Linked DNA regions of Homo sapiens. The protein of the gene in region 2 interacts with the protein of the main gene of each other region in a pairwise test. Each region holds a gene or a part of one and is shown on either strand. Other genes may lie near its edges. The genes, in order: HLF and HNF4G.

The links.
Region 1: the proteins of HNF4G (region 2) and HLF interact in a two-hybrid assay, tested with the Homo sapiens proteins (one large-scale study listed by BioGRID and IntAct).

Annotation. Positions count from the first base shown.
Region 1 is NC_000017.11:55,313,146-55,316,973, reverse strand, and holds part of HLF (hepatic leukemia factor), read right to left. Parts: intron 1,748-3,828; coding exon 1,527-1,747; intron 1-1,526.
Region 2 is NC_000008.11:75,553,347-75,557,174, reverse strand, and holds part of HNF4G (hepatocyte nuclear factor 4-gamma), read right to left. Parts: intron 1,194-3,828; coding exon 1,106-1,193; intron 1-1,105. UniProt on the Homo sapiens protein: Transcription factor. Has a lower transcription activation potential than HNF4-alpha.

The DNA.
Region 1 (3,828 bases), on a different chromosome or scaffold from region 2:
AAAAAAAACACCATAAAAAATTGGATCACTAAGAAGACAAGACTAGGAAAGGCATCTCATTGAAATAAGGTACCTAATTGCCCAAGACCTGAGCCCATGGTGCCCCTTTTTTACCCCATCTCAGTCTAACCATCAATGTCCTGACTAGTTTAGATTTTCTGGTGTTTTTACCATGTGATTTCCTTTTTTGATTCTCAGGGTGACAGCCATTGATTTGTCACCCATGGGCCCCCGTTATAGCCCTTGTCAGGGCCAACATGCTGCTGTGACCTTTTGGGAAGCAAGACAACCTGGGAGCCAGGCTAAGCCTTTCTCTAACAGGTAGTGATCCGCTGACTTCAGCTTTCCATTTTCTGCATTTCCTCAACTGCAAGTGGTAATTTTGGACAAATGAATCTCTAAGGTCCCCTTCAGCCCTGATGTTTTCCTATTCTGCATCAATTAAGGTAATCTCAGGAATGTGGATGACAGCAGTGATTTAAATTTGCCAGGTACTTCTGCTTCCAGCATTTTTTCTAGCTATGTAAAGCAGGAACAACTGGTCTAAGCCAGTTCAGACGTTGTCTCAAATTCCTATTTCCCAGCCTAGGAGTGTCTCTACATAGGAACAATAGTTAGGTTTGAGAGATGGGGGGCAGACAGTAGAAAAGGGCTAATTATGCCTGGTTCCAAGGCCTTGACTACATAATAATCATATCTCTAGTACCCACATGATTGGAAAGAAGCATGAAAGTTCTAAGCAATGGTTAATAAGAAATGGTTCTATTTTGGCATTAGCAGACATGGCATAATTTTGGAAAGAATTTTCATCCTAAGATGTCATTATTGTGTCTGGTTAATTTTGTTTTAAGCTGTATTTGACTTCCAAGGTAAATCTATTTCCCTTTATAAATAAGGTGTCCCTTCAACACTGCAGAGAAAACCTACTTAGAATTAATCTAGCGGTGAGATATTCAAGTGATCGTTACTTAAGATACATATAAATGGTGTCAGGGAACTACCAGTTTCCTTCACAAAATCCCACCCTGGTCATCCAAGGTTGGCAATATGGAGGAAGGTCCTATCTCTGGCTGTTATTCCTCGCAGCCTACAGGGAAATGGCAGCAGCAAATTATCAAAAATTTTCTAAAAGGAAGGTAACCCTTCGAGGGCAATGAGGTTCAGATGCCCTTCTCAAATGATTTTCTTTCTCTTCTCAACCTTGAAAGATGTGGGGTTTAATTTTATTAGACTTTTGTGGGTTTCCATGCAGATAGGAGCAGGTTTGTTTCCTTCATGGGTTTAAAATCACTCCAACATTTTACTGCTTCTCCTTGTTTCTGTTCAGCATCAAGACATAAAAGTGCATTTCAAAAAATACCCAGAGAGGAAACAACTGGCCTAGAAGTCACATGCCAAGAAACAGGATCAGAAATCAGAAATCCTTCATGCACTAGCTTCTGGGATCATCCTGGGGTCACCCTTTTAATCTGTCTGTGGATCCCACTCTCCATTTGCCCAAAGACTGATTACCAGTTCCAATTTACCTTCAGGTCATCAGGGATGAAGACTTTGCGAGCTTTCTTGATCATGGGCTGTGGCTTCAGTTCTTCCTCAGAGAACTTGCGTTTGCGAGGGTCAAACATTTCCTGGCCAGGGATGCTGGAAAGGGCAAGATCTGCTGGGTCTGGCTCATAACCCACTGGGACCTGGATGGTGTCAGGATCAATGGGACTTGGTGTATTGCGGTTTGCTGGCAACAGCTGACCTGGAACAACACAGGAGTTTTAATTCATGAACACCCTAGAGAGACCCAGTAGGCAGCTACTTAATGGTGCTCTGAGATGAGTGGTAAGAGTCTTCAGCTCACTTATATATGATGCTAACATGATTTATCTTACTCATCCGCACTGCATTTCTGAGAACACAGCAGGTTGAGTATGACTTGACTCACGTCACATCAGGCAAAACAGAAACCCACATACACATGTTCAAAAACTAGAGAAGGAGAAGCCCAATTTAAAAATACACATTCATTCTTTCCTATCACACAGCGATGTGCCAGGCACTCTGCAAGATGCAATGAACAGAACTACGTAATTTTCACCTTGAGGGTGGTTTCCAGGTGAGTCAGGGAGACAGACCAATAACTAGCCAGTTAGGGGAGAGTACAGATGTTGGGATGGAAGTAATTCTCATGTGCTTCCACAGTGTGAGGAAATGGTACGTAACACAAAGGAGGTTAGGGAGCATTTCCTAGAGATGACTCTTGGTACAGCCGCATCTTGAGACAAAGAGTAATTAGCAAAAAAAGGGTATTCTAGGTGCCAAGACAAGACAGAGGTTTGCATTTTTGCAGAACCACGTATAGTCTTGGGTAGCTGTCACATTGAATCAGAAGAAAACAGAGTGGGGAGAGGTGCAAGCACAAGAGATGTGGCCAAGAAGGTGGGCAGTGGGGATATGATTTTGAACAATCCAAATGTCAGTGAGAGATGCTGAGCAGTGAAGTGACAAAGAGCTGATGTTTGGAAAGAAGAATCAGGCAGCATGATGAACGGATTGCATGAGCCACGGCTGCAGACTGATGAGATGCAAGGCTGTTGTGATAAACAGTGTACACATTAACGGTAGCAATGGAGATAGTGAGAAGGAGATTAGTTCAAGAAATATTTAACAAATTAGAAAGAACATAATAGAGACAATCTAACTTCCACTTGAGGGTCCTACAGGCAAAACCACTGAAATGCACAAACATCCAGAGAACAATGGGTTTCTTGTGTTTCTCAATGTGTCTTACTGGTGAAAGTGAACTTCATACCAGACCCAAATGTTTATACTGGGAGCTCTGAATTTTAACTTCTAGTTTTCATCTGAATTTTACAATCACTCCTCTCACGCCCCATGAATAAATGAGAGGATGTCGTTCAGCTGTGTTTGGCCCATCTCCCCCTCTTCCTCACTGCCAATGGTAGGTCAATGTGTGAAGTATTCTTTAGGTTTCATTAAAACCTACCCCAGGTCGAAGCATGAAGCCACTGGCTCGGATTCTAGCAAAACTGTGAAACCGTGATCATCTGTCTTCTGGAAAGGCCTGGTGGGGAGTTTGCAAAATGAATGCTCTGGGTGACCTTCTAGGTCCCACTCTGCTTTGCGCTCTCTTTGTATCCTGCTTGCCAAAGAGGAAGAGATGGGCCCTGAGGTGCTGGCAGAGGATGGAGAGTTCTCATTAGCCAAGCTGTAGCTCAGCTCCAGCTTCTAGAGACTGCTGAGTTCTGTACTGGATGGTGTCAAGCTAGATTTGATCTTGTGCCTCTTGAGATTGCCTCAGAAAATGAACCACCTGTGATTCAAATGGGGATTTTATTTTCCCTTTAGAAACTCTTTGAACTTAATAACAAAGCTACCCAATGCCAATGCCCCATCACTACAATGTCCCCACCTCCCCATTCTTACACAGGCATGTGCACCCATCTCCTATCATCATGTAACACCTCTTAATACTTCCCAAATCGAATTGCTCCAAGCTCCTCCTTAGTACTCCAATATTGTTTATTATGCTGTATCAAAATGTTCTCCTTTATTGCTTTATGTTCTTAAGCTGTACACACACACACACACACACACACACACACGCACACACCTCCTCCTCTACCATACCACATGGTCTTTTATGTTTTATTCATTTATCCCCACCTGACTCCTCACCATGATGCATACTTCAGAGTTCAGCTTCTACAAAGACTGCTCCTCATTTAATGATGGCCTCTGAGATGCTGGACTCTGACATTCATTCATGGACATTCTAACAATAACACTTCCCATTCAGGTGGAACCTTTCTTGACATT
Region 2 (3,828 bases):
AGAATGTATACAGTAGGCATTTTGTTTTCTAGGTATATTGCATTTAGGTCTATAACAAGAACAGTATTCTAGATGTTTACTAGAAATTCAAGAGAGGTATTTAATAGCATTTCAGGGCATAGTCTCCACAATCACATTATGTGGTTTAGAATCTTGGCTATATTATTTTCTAGCTTTGTGACCTTTGGTAAACTTTCTCTGTCTCCATTTCTTCACCTGCAAAATGGGCTGAAAATAGTAGTACTAATCCCTTAGGGCTATTTCAAGGATTAAATGAGAGAATATATATACATATACATGTAATGTACTTAGACCAGTGCATTTACATAGTAAACCTGCAATAATATTAAATATTGTTATATTGTCTTCAATTTATTTATATTTGGGGCTAAAACATCTAGCACAAAAATAAAATAATCTAGTCATATTTTCACACATGCCAGAGAGAGGTAGAGCTAGTAAGTGTCAGAAGGATCTCAACCCTCAAAACCTAACTGTTTAAGTTAAGTAAGGTAGCGGGATTGGAGCAATTAATGAAGACAAATGTCTTTTCTTTATGTCTTCTCTACCCCACCACCCCACACCTATTATCCTTCCTTAGCCTCTTCTAGCATTCCTGTCTATCGAAATTGTTCAGTCATTACCACCAATACTTTTTTACTTGATCATTTTGTAGCATATCGTGGGCTATCATGGGCAATAAGATCATAGGACGTAAACATGTTTTTTTAAAGTGTGTAAAATAAAAAGCAGACTCTGAGGAAATATGAAAACACATTGAGACTCCATAAGGCAGCCATATAATTTACTAATTATTCATTCTGATATAATTTGAACATACCTCAATATTATGTTTATTGAGCAACATCTCTTTTTTATTTTTAAATCTTAATGCTCCCTGATTGTCTCATGGACTCTGAACTTACATACAGTCAAGGCAAGGAAAAATAAGGCCAAGTGAGGACACAATTAAATTAAACCTGTGAAGTGACAGCACCATTTGCCAGTGTCTGTAAATACTTGGTACATACAGAACAGACCCTGTATAATATTGCAAGAATAAAATATGCATAATTTCTTCTTAAATTAAAAAAAAAAAACTTACCCAAAAGCAAAATATCTTTATACATCATGGATCTCTTTGTAGCTCCAAGCAGTAAGTGCTCCCCTGCGTGAGCTCTCAACAGTGCCACCTTAATGAAAAATTCTCAGTTTAACAATTAATTATAATATATAATGATTAAAAGATGACATGAGTCTTGTTAACTTAGAGTGTTCTTTAAGCCTGGGACTTTTTGTTTAACAAACTATAGTATTCATAGATACATGCCATCATTAAGCCTTCCAGTTTTCTATCATAGCATGTCAATAGAACTTACTTTTCAAAAATTTTAAAACTATCTAGCAAATCAATACAATGGCAGCAGAAAGAAAAAAAAAAAAAGCAGACAAGTTAACTGTTTGCAAGGGAAACAGAATCAGACCAGAGTTCAAATCCCAGCACGGCCACTTACTACCTGTTTAACCTTGTGTAAGTTAACCAGTACGTTTGAACTTACTCATTTGTTTTCATCTACAAAATGGGAGTAGAGATAAAAAAAATCTCATCATGTACTCATGAGTACTAAACGATAAAACATATATAAAACATAATCTCCTGCACGTAATAAACTAAATAAACAAAAGCAAAGCAAAGACTTCTTGTAAGGAAAAGATGGGAGGTCTGGGTTCTGCCGCTTTCTAGATTATTCTTCTCAGTAAGCTCTCAACTGAGCTTCATTCGTACACTCAATTACCTGCTGGGCATCACCACTAGGAAGTATAGGAAGCATTACAAATTTAACACCTACCAATGTAACACTTCCCCATTATCTTCATCTAGTAAATGACACCGTAATCCAAAGTGCTTGTTCACATCAAAACAAGAGACTATTTTGAGTCCTCTCTAACTCTGCAGTAAATTCTAGTGCTGCTTCTCAAAATACAAGCCAAAGTGATCCACTTCTTTTCATCTCCATTGCTACCACCCTAGTCCAGGCTGAAAACTCTTTGAATGGTTTCTTATTGTCCCTAGACTGAAATCCAAACTCGTCAAACATGGCCTCACAGGTGATGGGAGGCGTGAGAGGGGTCAGTGCTTTGCCTCCCAGCCCTCATGTCTCTGACTTCATCTTGCAACACCCCTTGTTCACATTGTTGCTGCCTGACTCAGAACCTTGGACATGCTGTTCCTGTATCTGGAGTGCTTTCTTCTCAGATTCTCCTGGGCTTGGCCCCTTGTCTTTCAGGGTCTCAGGCAATAACTTCTCTGGTCCTCAGTTTAAAGTATCTCTTCTCATTTTATCCCCATTCTCCAACAACTCATCCTATTCCATTTTATAGCATTTTATAGAGCTTATCTCCACTTGGAATGAACTTTCTCATAATTTTTGCATTTTTTAAGTTATCCACCTTTCTCAAATAGAGTGTACATTTATGAGAATAGTGAAGAAATCTGTATTTTTACTGCTAAATACCCACAGTTCCTAAAACTGAACAGTAATCTCCTAATAAATATTCATTTGATGAATTTATTGAATGAATTTTACTGATCTAGGGTTCAGTTTTAGAAACTGTAAAATGGAGATAATAACACCTGTCACCGAGCTCCTGAGAGAATTAAATGAAATGATGTAATTTATAGTGCAACTGAAAGCTAATTTCCCATGCCTTATTCATAACAGACATTTACTAATTTGTGGCTAATTAATAAATGTTATACTGTTAATATTAAAGAATCAGTTGGCAAATTAAAACTGTTTTTCACTGGTTACTGGATTTTAATTTCCCAATTTTTAAATCACTGAATATATAAGTCAGCAACTTCTAAAGAAGAATGATAATAAAAATATAAAACTGATAAATAACGTAACCCTACTTATATTGCTTGGGGTGAGACTGGTAGGTTTTAGCAATTTAGCGTTATTCACTGGCATAACCTTCTGAGCCATGCTATCTTTATGGTATGTCAATATTCGTGACTCACACCAGGAAGGCAGTTACAGAGCATTTTAAGAATTATTTCAGATTTCACTGTATTTTTTTTTCCTGTCACCAGGTGAAACGCTCTCTTAAAAATAAATATACACTGGTTATAACACTTACCATGGTTAATTTAAGGTGAGAGAAAGGGAATTTTTCCAATTATTTTCATCTACAAAAAATTATACCCTACTTAGTAAGAACGGTTCAAAATGAATCTGAAACCAAAATACTTATCTTTATAGTACAATTAGGAAATTCAAGTTCCTAAGTATTTATTAAAATATCCTAATGGGCATATGACAAAATATGAAAATAGAAGTATTAGTAAAAGATCACTCTATCTTTTGTTGTGTAAATTTTATTTCTCTATAAATTTCTGATCATGTTTCTACAGATGTTTTTCTTTTTGCCAGACATGTAACTTTTATACAATAAATTCTAGAATAAAATTGACAGCATGAAAGGTAAAACTTTATGTTAATTGCATGAAGTACCCACCAAGACAACACCACAACCTGTGTGGTTTCTGTCTAGGAGTGACCTGGTATTTCTGAGGAGTTTTATATAGCAGCTTCAGTAAACGCCAATACACAACATCCACCATTTGCTTCACAGACATTCACTCTTCTAATACTTTGTCTCACAATGATAGTTACATGCTATCTACCTTTCTCCCTCACATGACCCTTTTAAAATTCCAAAAGGGCAGAGGAGTGTTTTGTTCAGTTCTTGTCCAATCAATAAATTTGCTACACCCCTAAAATAGAAGTCAAACAGTTGTGCCTCTTGATAGAACAAGGTGAA